Linked DNA regions of Homo sapiens: region 2 is linked to region 1. The links come from fine-mapping of genetic effects on gene expression. Tissue or cell type: whole blood. Region 1 holds a variant in brackets; the other region holds the start of a gene. All regions are shown on one strand. Distances are between the middles of the regions.

Region 1 (8,109 bases):
AACCACTGCTCAAGGAAATAAAAGAGGATACAAACAAATGGAAGAACATTCCATGCTTATGGGTAGGAAGAATCAATATCGTGAAAATGGCCATACTGCCCAAGGTAATTGATAGATTCAATGCCATCCCCATCAAGCTACCAATGACTTTCTTCGCAGAATTGGAAAAAACTACTTTAAAGTTCATATGGAACCAAAAAAGAGCCCACATCACCAAGTCAATCCTAAGCCAAAAGAACAAAGCTGGAGGCATCGCACTACCTGACTTCAAACTATACTACAAGGCTACAGTAACCAAAACAGCATGGTACTGGTACCAAAACAGAGATATAGACCAATGGAACAGAACAGAGCCCTCAGAAATAATGCCGCATATCTACAACTATCTGATCTTTGACAAACCTGACAAAAACAAGCAATGGGGAAAGGATTCCCTATTTAATAAATGGTGCTGGGAAAACTGGCTAGCCATATGTAGAAAGCTGAAACTGGATCCCTTCCTTACACCTTATACAAAAATTAATTCAAGATGGACTAAAGACTTAAACATTAGACCTAAAACCATAAAAACCCTAGAAGAAAACCTAGGCAATACCATTCAGGACATAGGCATGGGCAAGGACTTCATGTTTAAAACACCAAAAGCAATGGCAACAAAAGCCAAAATTGACAAATGGGATCTAATTAAACTAAAGAGCTTCTGCACAGCAAAAGAAACTACCATCAGAGTGAACAGGCAACCTACAAAATGGGAGAAAATTTTCGCAACCTACTCATCTGACAAAGGGCTAAGATCCAGAATCTACAACTCAAACAAATTTACAAGAAAAAAACAAACAACCCCATCAAAAAGTGGGTGAAGGACATGAACAGGCACTTCTCAAAAGAAGACATTTATGCAGCCAAAACACACATGAAAAAATGCTCACCATCACTGGCCATCAGAGAAATGCAAATCAAAACCACAATGAGATACCATCTCACACCAGTTAGAATGGCGATCATTAAAAAGTCAGGAAACAACAGGTGCTGGAGAGGATGTGGAGAAATAGGAACACTTTTACACTGTTGGTGGGACTGTAAACTAGTTCAACCATTGTGGAAGTCAGTGTGGCGATTCCTCAAGGATCTAGAACTAGAAATACCATTTGACCCAGCCATCCCATTACTGGGTATATACCCAAAGGAATATAAATCATGCTATAAAGACACATGCACACGTATGTTTATTGCGGCACTATTCACAATAGCAAAGACTTGGAACCAACCCAAATGTCCAACAATGATAGACTGGATTAAGAAAATGTGGCACATATACAACATGGAATACTATGCAGCCATAAAAAATGATGAGTTCATGTCCTTTGTAGGGACATGGATGAAACTGGAAACCATCATTCTCAGCAAACTATCGCAAGGACAAAAAACCAAACACCACATGTTCTCACTCATAGGTGGGAAATGAACAATGAGAACACATGGACACAGGAAGGGGAACATCACACACTGGGGACTGTTGTGGGGTTGGGGGAGGAGGGAGGGATAGCATTAGGAGATATACCTAATGCTAAATGACGAGTTAATGGGTGCAGCACACCAACATGGCACATGTATACATATGTAACAAACCTGCACATTGTGCACATGTACGCTAAACCTTAAAGTATAATAAAATAAAATAATAAATAATAAATAATAAATATTTATTTATTTAATAATATTTAATTAATAATATTAATTAATAATTAATAAATAACAATAAAATAAAATAAAAAAAGAAAATGGATGGATCCACAGCAGGTGTATGTATATGGATGAGGAAGAGGGATTAAGAAAATGCAGCAGGCCCCATGCAGTGGCTCACACCTGTAATCCTAGCACTTTGGGAGGCCGAGGCAGGTGGATTGCTTGAGCCCAAGAGTTTGAGACCAGTCTGGGAAACATAGCAATACCCTGTCTCTGAAAAATAAAAAAACTGCAGCAGTATTTTAAAGGTTGGTGCATGGAAGTCATGGAAGGAACACTACCCCAATTGGTAGATATTGAAAAAAATATTACCAACATCACAGTTAACATAGAGGATACACAAATATAAATAGAATGTTTAAAAATCACCCTTAGAGAGAGTAGAATTTTGATACATTTTATTTTATTTTATAATTTTTATTTATTTATTTATTTTTGAGACAACGTCTCGCTCTGTTGCCCAGGCTGGAGTGCAGTGGTGCGATCTCAGCTCACTGCAGCCTCTGCCTCCCAGGTTCAAGCAATCCTCCTGCCTCAGCCTCCTGAATAGCTGGGACCACAGGTGCACACCACCATGCCTGGCTAATTTTTGTACTTTTAGTAGAGACAGAGTTTCACCATGTTGGCTAGGATTGTCTTGATCTTCTGACCTCATGATCCACCTGCCTTGGCCTCTCAAAGTGCTGGGATTACAGGTATGAGCCGCCACCCCCAGCCTTGATACATTTTATTTTTTAAATCACATATTTAACTTATAAAATTTGGACATATATATACATACTTTTAAAATACTATTTTCTGAAATATTCCCCCATGATAGTCAATGCTGTTAGAGATTTATAATTTATTGTTATAATTTTAAAATCTCTTGAGTTTTGAAGTTAAAACATGTTTTAACTTTTAAAAATTGAGTGTCTCCTAATTAACATCTGGAGAAACTGTTCTTTAAGAGAATGCTTCAGAAAGTCTAAATTAATTGATATCAAATTTTCCCCTTTTACAAAACATATTGTTTCTGTGTTTTTGCCTTCTTCCTAATAGTCTTATTTCACATTTGGCTAGTTTATTTTTCTTTTGCTGCAGTGAACATACTAGTGGTTTATATTTCACTGTTTCTCATTTTATCTGCTCCACTCTGGTAACCAGGTTACTCAGGTCAATAAAACCTGAAGAAAGAGCCCCTATGTCATTCCTAAGTGAACTCAAACTACAGGTGGTGAAAAGATGAAGGTGCCTTAAAGAATCTACCATGTTGGAAAATCAGACCTAGTACGCTGACCTCAAGGCTACCTTACCATTCCTCCTTGTCACTTTTTTGATAAGTTTACATTCTTCCTAATCTGATCACTTCCCATATGCCTACTAAATATCTAAGTCAGCAAGAGAAACCGTTTCAGTCACTTCTCTGGTGGCCAACAGAAAAATTAATCATTTCATTGATTTTAATAAAATTCAACTACTTACTAAGTCATCACAAAATTATAATGAATAAAACAAACTCTTCCTTAAGGATAAAGAAAAAAATGAGAAAATTTCACTGTGCTTCCATTTATTTTTAAGCTGCCAATTATTACATTTATTTTTAATTAGAAAATAAATCTAAGTTTGAGAAAAATTACTCTGCATGTTGAATTTCATTTACCTCATCAACAAAGATATACTAGGAGCTACACCAAGTAGGAGAATTTTGAAAAGTGTAACTCAAAGCAATGCTGGCTAGCAGCCAGGCTATGAGTCTTGGTCCTACTTGTGTTCATAGTACTGAGGGATATCAGCAAAATGGTAAGCTAAGAACCTCCAAACCTTTGTTCATTCATAGAAAAAAATACTATGGATGGTTTAAATAACTTTATAGAAACTCTGAAAAACAGTCAGAAAAAAAGAGCAACCAAGTAAATTCCCATTAAGAAAAAGTCATATTCAAAATTATTGTGTTTTTACTCATTTAAAACATTATGGGACTTTGAGAAAGAGAAGAAAGGGGCAGATAATTTTTTTGAAAAAGTAATAGCCAAAAGCTTCCCAAGTTTGAGGAAAGACATACAAAGAAGCTGTATGAACCACAAGATAAAGCCAAAAAGACCCATAGTGGACAAATTGTAATCAAACTGTTAAAAGACTAATAGAATCTTAAAAGCAGCAAGCGAAAACAGACTCATCATATACAAGCTATTCTCAATAAGATTTTCAGTAAGTTTCTCAGCAGAAAGGTTGCAGGCCAGAAGGCACAGAGATGATATATTTAAGGTGCTAAAAGAAAAAGAAAAATACTTGTCAACTGAGAATTCTGTATTTAGCAAAACTGTCCTGTTAAAATTAGGCAAAAATAAATGCACCCCCAGGTAAACAAGCTAAGAGGCTACATTACTACTAGTCCTCCACTATAATCAGTGTTAAGACAGCCCTTCAAAGTTGAAATAAAATGACAATAGACAGTAACTTGAACACATAGGAAAATATAAAGATCTCCGGTAAAGGCAAATACATGGACATTATAAAAACTAATAGTTTTATATAATTTTGGCTTGTAACTACACTTTA[T/G]TTTTTAAAGAATTTAAAAGGCAAATTCACAAAAATAATTATAAATCCATGTTAATAGGTACACAACATATATAAAGATTGATTTTTGACAGAAATAACATAACAAAGCAGGAAGGGAAAGTTGTAAAAAAGCAAAGTGTTGGGTGCAATTGAAGTCAAGTTGGTATTAATTCAAAATAGATTGTTATAACTTTGTACTGTCACATGTAACCTCCATGGTAACCACAAAGAAAATATCCACAAAATGTACACAAAAGGAAATAAAAAGGTAATCAAAATGTGTCACTATAAAAAATGAACTAAAAACAAAGGAAAGTAGTAATTGAGGAAATGAGAGAAAAAAAGCTATAAGACAAAGAGAAAACATCAAAATGGCAGAAGTTCCACTTTATCAGTAATTGCTTTAAATGTAAATGGATGTTTCTGTCCAATCAAAAAGCAGATATTGGTAGAATGGGGTTGGGGAGATGTGATACAATTATATGTTGTTTTTATAGATACTTTACGGATTCACTATAGATCTCAGGATACCATAGTTTGAAAGTGAAAGTGGAAGGGTGGAAAGAGATATTCCATGCAAACAGGAACTGAAAGAGAGCAGGGGTGGCTATACTAATATCAGACAAAATAGACTCTAGGTTAAATTTAAATTAAAAACTGTTACAAGAGACAAAGCAAGATACTACATGTAAGTAAAAGAATCAGTTCTAAGATATAATAATTATAAACATATGTACCAAACATCGTATCTCCAAAATATATTAACCAAGCATTGATAAAATTGGAGAGAACAAATAGACAGGTCTACAGTAATAGTAGGAAATATCAATACCCCTCTCTCAATGCTGGATAGAACCACCAGTCTTGAACAATTCTGCAGACCAATTGGACACATGCAGAACACTTCACCCAACAAGATTCCATTAGAATATATGGTTTTTTTCTTAAGTGAATATGTAACATTCTTCAGGAGAGACCATACATTAGGCCACAAAACAAGTGTTAATAAATTTTAAAAGATTGAAATTATGCAGTGTCTTTCCCAATTACTATGCAATAAAACTGAAAATATCAGAAGAAAAACTGGAAAATTCACAAATATGTGGACATTAAACAACACACTTTTAAACAACCAATGGGTTAAATAAGAAAAATTAGAAAAAACCTTAGGACAAATGAAAACACAATTTGCAAAAACTAATGGGACGCTGTAAAAGCAGTATGAAGAGGGAAAATTATAGCTTTAAATACTTACATTTTAAAAGGATAAAAGATTTCAGTTCAACAATACAACTTTATGTTTTAAGGCACTAGAAGAATAATGATCTAAACCCAAAGATAGCAGAAAAAATAAAATAACAAAAGATATGAGCAAAGATTACCATAATTCATTTGAGAATGTTGCCTAAAAATACAGTAAAGAAACTCAATATTATTTTCTCTTCTATTAGAAATTCAACAATATGCACTCTTAAAACACTTCTCCAGGAAATGAGATATTATTATAGACAAACTAACCCGAAATAGAAATAGTTGTTTGATTCTTCTGCTTGTTCCTAGAGTTGAGAATGAAAAAGGGTACATTCTTGTTGAGATTAGTTTCCAGAACTGAAGCCTCAATGGAGAATTGGCCTTTTCCATTCTCTGCAGAATATGGCTTTAAATTATGTCCTTAGAGTTCTCTCTAGCTTATCCCATGCTCTGGGTACCAGCTTTCATCCTTATACCACACTGCATCACTGGCATCACTGCTCTTAATGAGAATGTGTGAACAATTTCCTAATTTCATGAAATAAGAAGTGGACAAACAGCTCAATTAAGAGATGATTATCTAAAATGGGCTTTGATTATAGTTTTAGTATTTTGAATAAGGTGAGCCAGATGGAAATAATGTCCATCCCCTGTGCAACTTAGGTAGAAAAAATAATTCCGTTAATAGTTTAATCAGAACAAATGATTGCTCTAAGGAATCAAATGTAGCAGGAAAAGATAAGAATAAGAAATCTTTAAGAACTAAGGTTTTTAAAACATAAGAATATAAGATAATAATGAGAAGCTGAGTCTAAGAATTTATAGTAATGTCAGAAGTACACCAAAAGCTGATTGAATGGCACAGTTCTGATTTAGTCATTACGCTACCACGGAGGTCAAACTGTCAAAGCAGATTTATGAAAATTATACAGCTTACTTAATACCAAATTTTACTAATTGATGAAGAACATGAGCAAAAAGCAAGCAGAGAAACAGCAATATCCATCTTTGAAAAGGCCCAAAAGATCAGATGTACTTCCAAAAACATATATTTTTGCACTGGAATGTACTTTGTGCCTGAGTAGGAGATTAATGTTACTGTATGTATCATGTACATGCCATACATGTTAGCCCTAGGAGGCCATTTAAGTTTAGAGCTTTTTACATTCCATTAGTTGCACAGGTAGGAAACCTACATGACTAACTTTAGCTCTCCAAGTTGTGCCCTGTACTTCACAAATTCCAGATTCATCTACAATAAGCAATGCAAAAAGCCTACTAAAAACATTGTTAGATGAGAACTTCTTGGGTAATCTTCCTGCTTGTAAATACCATCAGTGGTTACAAGGAGGGAAGAGTAATGAAGCTGTTGCTAGTTCTTTCCCTTTTGTGAAGACACGGATGAAGTGCAGTGCTGGGAGTGGCAAGGGATTGAATCAAGCAAGATTCAGAAATATACAAATGATTCAATGGCCCTTTATATTCAAATCTCCAAATTTGAGTTTTATATATCATCTTCTCAAAGGAACAAAACAAAAAATTCAATCATATACAAAAATTTTGTCTATTATAAAGTTGAATGTTTGCCCCACACCTGGCCTGCCGTCGTGCATTAGGGGACCATGGATGATCAAAAGAATCCCTGTCCTGATGAGGTCCCCCTGATGCTCTTATTTATGCTAAATTGCGAACATTTGATGCACTTGGGTCTATGATTCTTTACCAGCCATACCAATCATGTCTACGACAGATAAGGGGGAGGAAGATGGAGTGCATGCAACACCCTACAGCATTCTCTGCCATTATCTGACTCTTCACCTGCTCCATCTTCCCTTCAAGACCAACGGTAGGAGGGTGCTGCTTATGGTAATCAGATCACCAGGTTGCTGTTCCAGGGCCATATGTAGGGAGTACAACCAAAAGCACAGGCTTCCCTTTATCTCTTTGTTCCTGCCCAACTATCATGTCAATTCTTGCCCTGAAATTTGATCTATCCTTCTTTTCCAGTCCAAGTAAGATGGTTTTTCTTACCTGCATGGCTTCACTGAAACCAAAACTAACATTTCCAAACACATTTCAGTTAAAAGTAGAGATGAATTTTGTTTTTCAAATTTGAAAATGCTCATTAAAATAGAAAGCTAATGTGTGCCAGCTGAGTAATACTCAGATATCTCTGTACAAGAATCCTTCATCCGTCTTTGCCTCGCAGTCCTCCTGGGCCTGGGAGCTGACATCAGGCACAGCCAGGCAGGGAAAACTCATGGCTCGCTCTCACTACAGGGGGTGGAAACCAGAATAATCAAGACCAGTCTGGCAACATAGTGAGACCTTGTCTCTACAAAAAAATTTAAAAATCAGCCAGGCATAATAAGTATGTGCTTGTGGTCCTAGCTACTCAGGAGGCTGAGGCAGGAAGATACCATGAGTTCGAGGCTCAAGTAAGCTAATAATGGCACCACTGCACTCCAGCCTAGGCAAGATAGCAAGACCCTGTCTCAAAAAAGGGGGGTACATAATAATATGTCTTCCCACTCCATATTTATTCACCCCTTACCCCTTAGAAATGACCAT
Region 2 (8,109 bases), 75 kb after region 1:
TTCCTGCAGGTGTGGCCTTAGCCCAGCACTGCCAGAACTCTGGGCAGACCATGCTGCTGCTGTTTTGTTTCCACCAGCCACGGTGGCCAGAGAGCAGACAGCTATAACCAGCTCCAAGTCACTGATGCTGAGGCGTCCAAAGATACATGACTCTTCAAGTATTTTGCAGAATGTGAACAAGGCTGATGGTTCCCAGGGCACAGGACTAGAGGGTTTGCCAGCATTGTCCACCTTATAGGACCCCTTCCAAAAAGTCTCCACCCTCAGAAGATGCTGCTGAGGTTGTCAAGGAAGAATGGAACATTTAAGCCAGAGAGGGCAATTCAAGTTCCTAGATGGGGCCACACTGGCCACTTTGTAGCCTGGGGAACCTAACAACTGTGTCCCAGGGGCTGATCCCACTTGAAGAACTTTGTGTTTGCTGTTCCTTCTCAGAATGCTCTTTTCCTCCCCTGTCCATTGTCTCAATGTCCATGACCTCAACCTAAATGTTACGTTTTAGTAAAGTTTTTCCCGACCCACTCTGTTAAACTATCACTCTTATCTTGTTTTATTTTCTGCATATGCTTTTCACAATCTAAAATTAGCTTGTTTGTTGCTTGTTTGTTTTTATTGGCTTTTTTCCTATCAGGCTAAAGACTTGTTCATTTGCTCCCTCAAACGCAAGCACAGGGAGAGCAGAAGCCTCACCTCTTGTGTATTGCTGTGTCCTCAGCACCTATCACAGGGCCTGGCATATCACAAGTGCCAACAAATATGAAATCAATGAAGAAATGAATATGGGAAGATTATTTCAGATGTGAGCTCACTCGTGGAACCTAATTGACTGAAGAGGTCCAGAAAGAATCCTCATCCCTGCAAAAGTCCCAGTGATTCTAAAAGTCAGAACACTATCTCCAAAATAACATGATGTCCTCTGATTTTATCATTTTCTGGGCTCTTTGTACATTCAGGAAGGATTATGGGGGGCTCTTTCTTCCCCAGCCCACCCTGTACATACCAGGCAGAAGAGAACTGGCCTTTCAGAACGAAGCCCTCTAGGATTCCCACTTGTTGATTTGCTTGGGCCGATAAGCTCAAATTCGAGTTCTGACTCCATGTGCTCAGGAGCTGGGGACTGAGGTGGGGAGGAGGGACCAGGGGTGAGGGGAGCAGTGATGTTGCCCAAGATGTGAATCTTTCTGTTCTTAGAAGAGGTCAGGGAGGCTGATAAAAGTGGGGGCAGGTTTCCCATGCCAAGTCCAATATGAGAAGGACATACCAGCTTCACATTTACTCTTGGAAGTATTTCTCCTCCCACTGTGTAACAGCCTCAAACATTTACCAACCCAGCACAGTCATTTCACCAGGGACCTTTGGTCCAAATAAAGGGGCCAGAGGAAGGAATGGACAGGACATACAACTACCAAAAATGTGAAATGAATCAAATCACAGCCTTTTCTCCAATGACCCAAAGTCCCTAAGGAGCACTCTGTTCTCATTTCACCCCAACTGGCCCCTGTCTCTCCAAACTTCCTAACAGACTACAGACCTGCCTGAGTTTCCATCTGCTCCTCTGTGGCTGGAAAAATGGAAAAACACCAAGATATTTCAAAGAGATCGGAACACAGCCAGAGCTGTGTAAGACCGCACGTACCATCTGACCCAGCCAATCACAGAGTCTTAGAAACCAACAGAGAGCTAGCAGAGGAGAAAGCCCAGGCCAAATCCCCAGCATCCTGTTTAAGGCACTACTATCCATCATTGCTATTTGCCAGTGACTAAGTGCCTGCTGTGTGTCGGGCTAACAAAGGAGACTGTCCATGAGAGGTGCTGGCAGGGTGCTCCGTGACAGAGCTGCAAGAGCACCGGGCGGTGGTAGTGCCTTGCCTCAATGTGTGAGCCTCAACAGGTCGCTCTCCCAAAGTCAGCCTCATGTGTGTGGAAAGCAGAATAATGCCCACCACCACCACCACCAAAGACATCTATGTCCTGGTCCCCAGAATCTTGAATATGATCCTATATAGTGGGTCACTAGCAAGAAACATATCCAATCAGCCAATCAGAGTGCAAATCAATAAAATAAGGAAGCTCTATCTATACACAACTAAGCAATTTAAAGTATATGGTTTAGACGTGGAATCTAGCTTGCTGTTGTTTAATGTGCCAGGCAATTATACTTCTGAGCAGTTCCCCTTCCTAACTACCTAATTCTTAGCCTTTACTGCTAGATGTCTCCATTATCTCTTGAGGTTCACCTTCTGTTTCCCTAGTGAGTTGGAAGGATACTAGGTCTCTAGGGATCCACTAGAACAGTGACTATCAAATTCTCACTTAACTTCTCTCAGGTCACCCTGAAAGTAAGTGACAGAGGCAAGATCTGAACCTAGTTCCCCCCAATTCCAATGAAGTTCAGAGAATAGGCCCTGGAGCCAGGGTGCCTGCGTTCAAATTACAGCTCTGCCACTTACTTTCTGTGTGATCATGGGTGAGTCACTCTCTCTGGACCTCAGTTTCCTCATCCATAAAATGGAGGTGATGACAGTCCCTCCCTAATAGGATTGTGGTAAAGCCTAAATGAGTTAATACAAGTAAAATGCTTAGAGTCATGCCTAGCTTATAGTAAGTACTCAGTAAATGGCAAGTATGATCATTATAACATCATTCCGCTTACTGGGCCAGTCAGGGTGGGGGAGGACAAGGCAGGGTGTCGCAATGCCAACACTTACTCCTATACCTCAATAAACTGTGTTTGTGAGTACACGTGCCCATTTTTTATACCACCGCCACACCCAACCAAGATATTCTCTTTCCTTGGAGGTATTTCCTTTGCATGTTTCAATCCATAGAGAAGAAATGGAGGCACAACGTTTAAAGGATTGGCGTATGGCTGAGAAAGCATCTGAGGCTGTGACTGGCCCTTATCCCCTTGGTCTGTCACCCCCAAGGGCCCAGGATCTGACCTGACCACAGGCCCCCAGAGTCTCTCATTTGTTTTGCATCTCTAACACCTCACCGCGACTCAGTGGTTCTCTGGCTGTTCTCTGGGACTCCCCAGATCTTTAGTGTCATGGAGCCACAGTTCTGAGGTTCGGAGAGGTCACTTGTGGGAGAGTTCATGAAGCATGACTTGTAACCCCCACAGCATGATTCACAGTCCCAGGACAGCTGGGAACAGGAGGTCCCGGCTGGAGCAGGAAAACACTTTTTAGTTTTTTTCAGTTGTCACTGCAGAAGCACATGATGTCCTAAAGCTCAGCTGTGCTGCTTTGCGTGTGTCTAGATGGCTGCTGTGCGGCCTGCATAAACCAAAGAGCATGTCATGCTCAACCACAGACAAACATCTGTTCCACTCCCATGTCTTCATTTTACAGATAGGGAAGACAAGGGCCAGAGAGGGGAAATGCCTCCATTAGGGTAATTCAGAGGGTCTCCTAACCCCCAGAGTACCTGTTCTTCCCGCTCCCACCTCCACCTAATTCAGGCATCCCCAATCCTTCCAAACTATGTGGCCACTGCAGTAGCAGCACGCATCATAGCAGATGTTCAAGGAATCTCTGATACTTGTGTGATTGCGCAGCCTTCACCACCACACCCTGGAGCTTTGAGGACCTTAGTATTCACCACAGATGAACCGGAGACTCCTCAGCCCCCAGGTGCAGCAGGATTCCAGCTGGTCCAGAAGAAACAAGTGCAGCTGCATAAGTAAGAGCCCAGCCTGGCCCTCAATCAGAATAACAGCCCCTGAGGTTTGTTTCAATTTGTGGGGGGGGCGGGGGGGGTTACACCTTTCATCCTTTCACTCAGTACATATGTATGGAGCACCTACTGTTAGCCAGGCCCTGCTCCAAGAGCTGAGAATGCCTCAGAGATGACGATAGACAGGCAGTCCCTACCCTCAAGAAACTGGCATGGGGGAGACTAGGGAGCAAAACAACCAGCAACTGGAACAACTACGTCCTCAGGAAAGGGACAGCTAACCAGCAGGAGGGAGCTTGAAGGAAGCCTTCTCTCCAAGATACTTTGCTCATGTCCTTTCTCCTTTGCTTTCTGCACGCAGAAAATGTTTTCCCAATTTCACTGATGGAAAAACAAGGATGGTGAAGCAGTTAGTGACAGAACCAGGGCTGGAACCCGCCACTCCTGACTCCAAACTCCTGGCGCCTTCTACACGGGGCCTCGAGAAAAGCGGGACAGGTAAGTGCAAAGACCCAAACCCAGCGCAGCGCCCAAGCAGGTGCTCAGGCCCGGGCGCTGAACCCTGACGCTGGGCCTGGAGAGCCAGGAGGTGGCAGTCTGCCCGAGGAGGAGGCTTCCCGAGAAGGCAAGGGCAGCGGACCCGGAGAGAAGCCAGTCTCCGAGTGGGGCTGGGGTTCGCCCACCCAAGCTCCGCCTCCCCCAGGCCCAAAATTCTGTGCACTAGGAGGCTCGAACTTAAGAGCTGACAGCAGGAGAAAAAGGAGGGGGTGAGGGCAAGAAATACAAAAGTGATGAAAAGGGAGAAATGGGGAGGAGAGACCGGACATAAAGAAGAACGTTGGGAGCCCGGGGAAAGGGGCCGCACTAGAGGTAGGTCGCGAATCCGAAGAGCTCCGCTCTGCCAGAGCCCCACAAACAATCCCCCGGTGGCCCCACTCACCCCAGATGGCGGCGAGTCTGCGGAAAGTTCCTGGGTCAGGGATGGCTCGGTGCTTCTCAGGGTCCCCAGGACTGCACGGGATCTGGCAGCTGGAAGCGACCCCCAGGCCTGGAACCTCAGCCCTAGGCAGCTCCTGGAACGTGCCCCGGCTCCTCCGAGCCCCGGGAGGCGGGAGAGCGCAGGAGCGGCCAGGACGCGCTGCTGGCTCTGGAATGCGCGGCTGCTGGGGACCGCCCCCGGAACGCCCGGTCCCGGGGCCCCGGCAACTCCAGCTCAGCTCCTCCTCCAGCGTCCCCTGCGGGCTGCGTTCGGGGAGAAAGGAACCTGCGAGAGAAGGGAGAGACCAGGGCGTCTCGGGCTCCCCTTCCACGTTGCCACACACTCGCCGCGTAGCCGTGGACATGTCGCTTGGCTTCTGAGGGTCTCCCCTCTCTGGATTGTAAACCGAGAGGGTTGGCCTAAAATGTGTCCTCCACGACCTTTCCAGCTATAGAGTAGACATGGGAAAGAAAGCCTAGCAAGTAGGTTTGGACAGAGGAGCCGGGACTCAGATCCTGCTTTGCGATGTCCGAAGTGTAGGGTCCTTCGGAGGCTTTGCCACTCTGTTTCATTCTCTGTAAAGTGGGAAAGGTAACACCTGTCTCCCAGTCCTGTTGTGAGGATTGGTTTAGAGGACCAGTGTGAAGCTGGTTGGTTCTCTGCCATAACATGACTTGGAGCATCCTGTTTATTTTGTGATAACAATGAAATAGCCCAATCCAAGGTGATCAAGAGCCCATTAGAATCCAGCATCTGAGAGGCTTCCCACGCCACTGTGGGTGGCCCAGCTTCCACGCAGGACAATGCCAATTCTGTAATCTTCTGCCCCCTCTATGTCATCCATGGAGTGAGGGGGGACTCCCGTCCCATGTTGGCACCCACACTTTTTAATTCACAGTGGTTTTCTTTAATCTTACTCTTCTGAAAAAAAGGAGCACAAGCCTTGACTATCAGTGAGACCTTGAGCAGTCTTGGAGCCCAGTAGTGTTTTGGAGGGTTTGGAAAGAGCCATACTGCCTTCCCCAGGCCTAAATTTGATATGGTGTGGGCCCCGAACTTAGAACTTACTCCATGCTGTTTCCTCTGATTCAGGGATGAGGTCAGCAGAAATGACCTCTAAATCATCATTATCACACGCCAGTTTCTTAAGGGAAGGACAGTGAGGATGAAGGGGATTCACATGAGAAATGATTTGAGAAAAACCCTAAGGGCTGTCACCCAACAACATGTTTTATTCAAAAGAGATAGTGTGGGAACCTAAAAACAAGGACAACCCAATTCTGAATAGTTTAATACAAAGCTCTCATTTAATAGTAAAAAAAGATTGAAGGAGGACAATCTTTTTTTTTTTTTTTTTTTTTTTTGAGACGGAGTCTCGCTCTGTCGCCCAGGCTGGAGTGCAGTGGCATGATCTCGGCTCACTGCAACAGGAGGACAATCTTAATATGACATTTTCCCTGGTTAGTGAAGGGGATGAGAGTTCCTTTGGGTGGACAACTGGTAACTCCATGTGCCCTGCTGTGAACATTGGCTTCCCTCTGGGACAAGGCAGAAGCTCAGGCCTGGAGCCAGCTGAGTCCTAGTCTCCCTTTCCATTTAGCAATTTATTAGTATCTCTTTAATATCGACTTGCCCTGGGACCCTAAAAGCAAGCCAGAAATAAAGTATGAATCCCCACAGGAGCATACCATGTTAAGTCTGCTGCCTAGGCTAGACTGATTTTGCAAAGAGAGCACTGAAGGGAAGAATAATGGATGCTGTGTTGGGATGCAGGAGTGGGGGAAATAGTCAATTTCAGCAACAAGCTTTTGTTACAGCAAAAGCCAGAAAACAGCTCACAACTTCCTTGGTCCTCTATTACAACCACTCCAAAGAGAAAACCATCAGGACCTGAAAGAAATAAGTAATACTCTCTTAGAGAGCCCCTGATACTTTGGGGAACTTGTACAGAAGAAGTTGTAGTCTAATGACATTGGCTGCCATCAAAAGACGGCCTTGGCCAGGGGCAGTGGCTCATGCCTGTAATCCCAGTACTTTGGGAGGCCGAGGCGGGCAGATCACCTGAGGTCAGGAGTTCGAAACCAGCCTGGCCAACATGGTGAAACCCTGTATCTACTAAAAACACAAAAATTAGCCAGGCGTGGTGGCGGGCGCCTGTAATCCCAGCTACTGGAGAGGCTGAGGCAGGAGAATCACTTGAATCCCAGAAGCGGAGGCTGCAGTGAGCCGAATTGCCCCACTGCACTCCAGCCTGGGCAATAGAGTGGGACTCTGTCTCCAAAAAACAAACAAACAAACAAACAAACAAACCACTGCCTAAAGAGGCCCCCATTAGGATGCAATCCATAGCAAATACCCTCTTTAAGAATCATATCTACACGAGACATTTTCTTTTCATTTTTCACTTGTACAAATATATTTATTTACTTTTGGGGAATAATATGACATATTGTATTAGAAATCAGAAAACCAGTATTTCGAGTCTGTCACCCAGTAGCCCACCCAAGCTCCATAAAATAGTAAAATGAGACCTATTCCTCACATCTGGTACAATTATGATGAGTAAATATTTTATTCATATACAGCAGACCCCTGAATAACATCCTTCTGTTATAACGTTGATGAGGAAAAAAAATTGTTTCCCTGCTGGGATCACCGTCTGTGTGGCATTTGCATGTCCTCCCCATGTCTTCCTGGGTTTTCTCCAGGTACCCCGGTCAGTTTCCTCCCACATCCCGAAGATATGCATGTTAGGCAAACTGCTGTGTCTATGTAGTCCCAGTGTGAACGATTGTGGGTGTGGGTGAGTCTGCTCTGCGATGTGATGGCGTCCTGTCCAGGGCTGGTTACTGCCTCGAGCCCTGAGCTGCCGGGACAGGCTCTGGCCACTGAACTCTAAACTGGAATAAGCAGGTAAATAATTCTCTTCCTTGTTTTTACTAATCTTTCTTAAATGTATGTATGGTTCACAATTATTTCAGTGTTCAATATTGGAAGTGTTTTAGTCTTTATTTAGAAGTTTGGTGGTACTTTTGTTATCAGAAATATGCTGTAGGAACTTAACTCTTCTTTCTGTCCATTTGTCTATGGTAAAATTGGTTTCCTTATACATAGTTTCACTCAAAATCAAAGTGTCCAAAACCTGTTGAGGAGGCTGAGTGAGGACTTACTGTATTCCTTCATTCAAAGCTATTTATTGAATATCTCCTACATGTTCTAGGCACTAAGGAAGACAAATTATCTTTATTTATTGTGCTTACATCTACTGGGAAAATATTCACAAAAAATAAGTAAGCAAATAAATAAGCAAGATGATACCGGTTTGCGAAACCATGAAGAACATAAAGCAAGATGATGAGAGAGTGATGGAGAGTGTTTTATCATGGAGATTGTAGTTAAACTGAATTTCCTAAATAGTTTATATCATCAATGATTATGTTACTCTGTAATAT

Evidence for each region. PIP is the estimated chance that this variant, and not a neighbour inherited with it, causes the effect.
Region 2: it holds the start of SMIM3, and the variant in region 1 is fine-mapped to the expression of SMIM3 in whole blood (TOPMed, PIP above 0.99).

What each region holds. Positions count from the first base shown.
Region 1 is chr5:150,850,505-150,858,613 of GRCh38, reverse strand. It overlaps a transcript of IRGM not described here. Among named protein-coding and RNA genes, the nearest start is that of IRGM, 8.0 kb to the right of the region's middle. The variant T/G (reference allele first, on the strand shown) is at 4,288.
Region 2 is chr5:150,775,482-150,783,590 of GRCh38, reverse strand. SMIM3 (small integral membrane protein 3) reads right to left here and starts at 4,834. Exons shown (of 2, transcript NM_032947.5): 1 at 4,619-4,834. LOC124901110 reads left to right here and starts at 3,190. Exons shown (of 2, transcript XM_047417995.1): 1 at 3,190-3,684; 2 at 4,040-8,109. The coding sequence starts at 4,470. The coding sequence ends at 5,111. RefSeq lists an enhancer at 3,451-4,312 and a silencer at 4,750-4,939.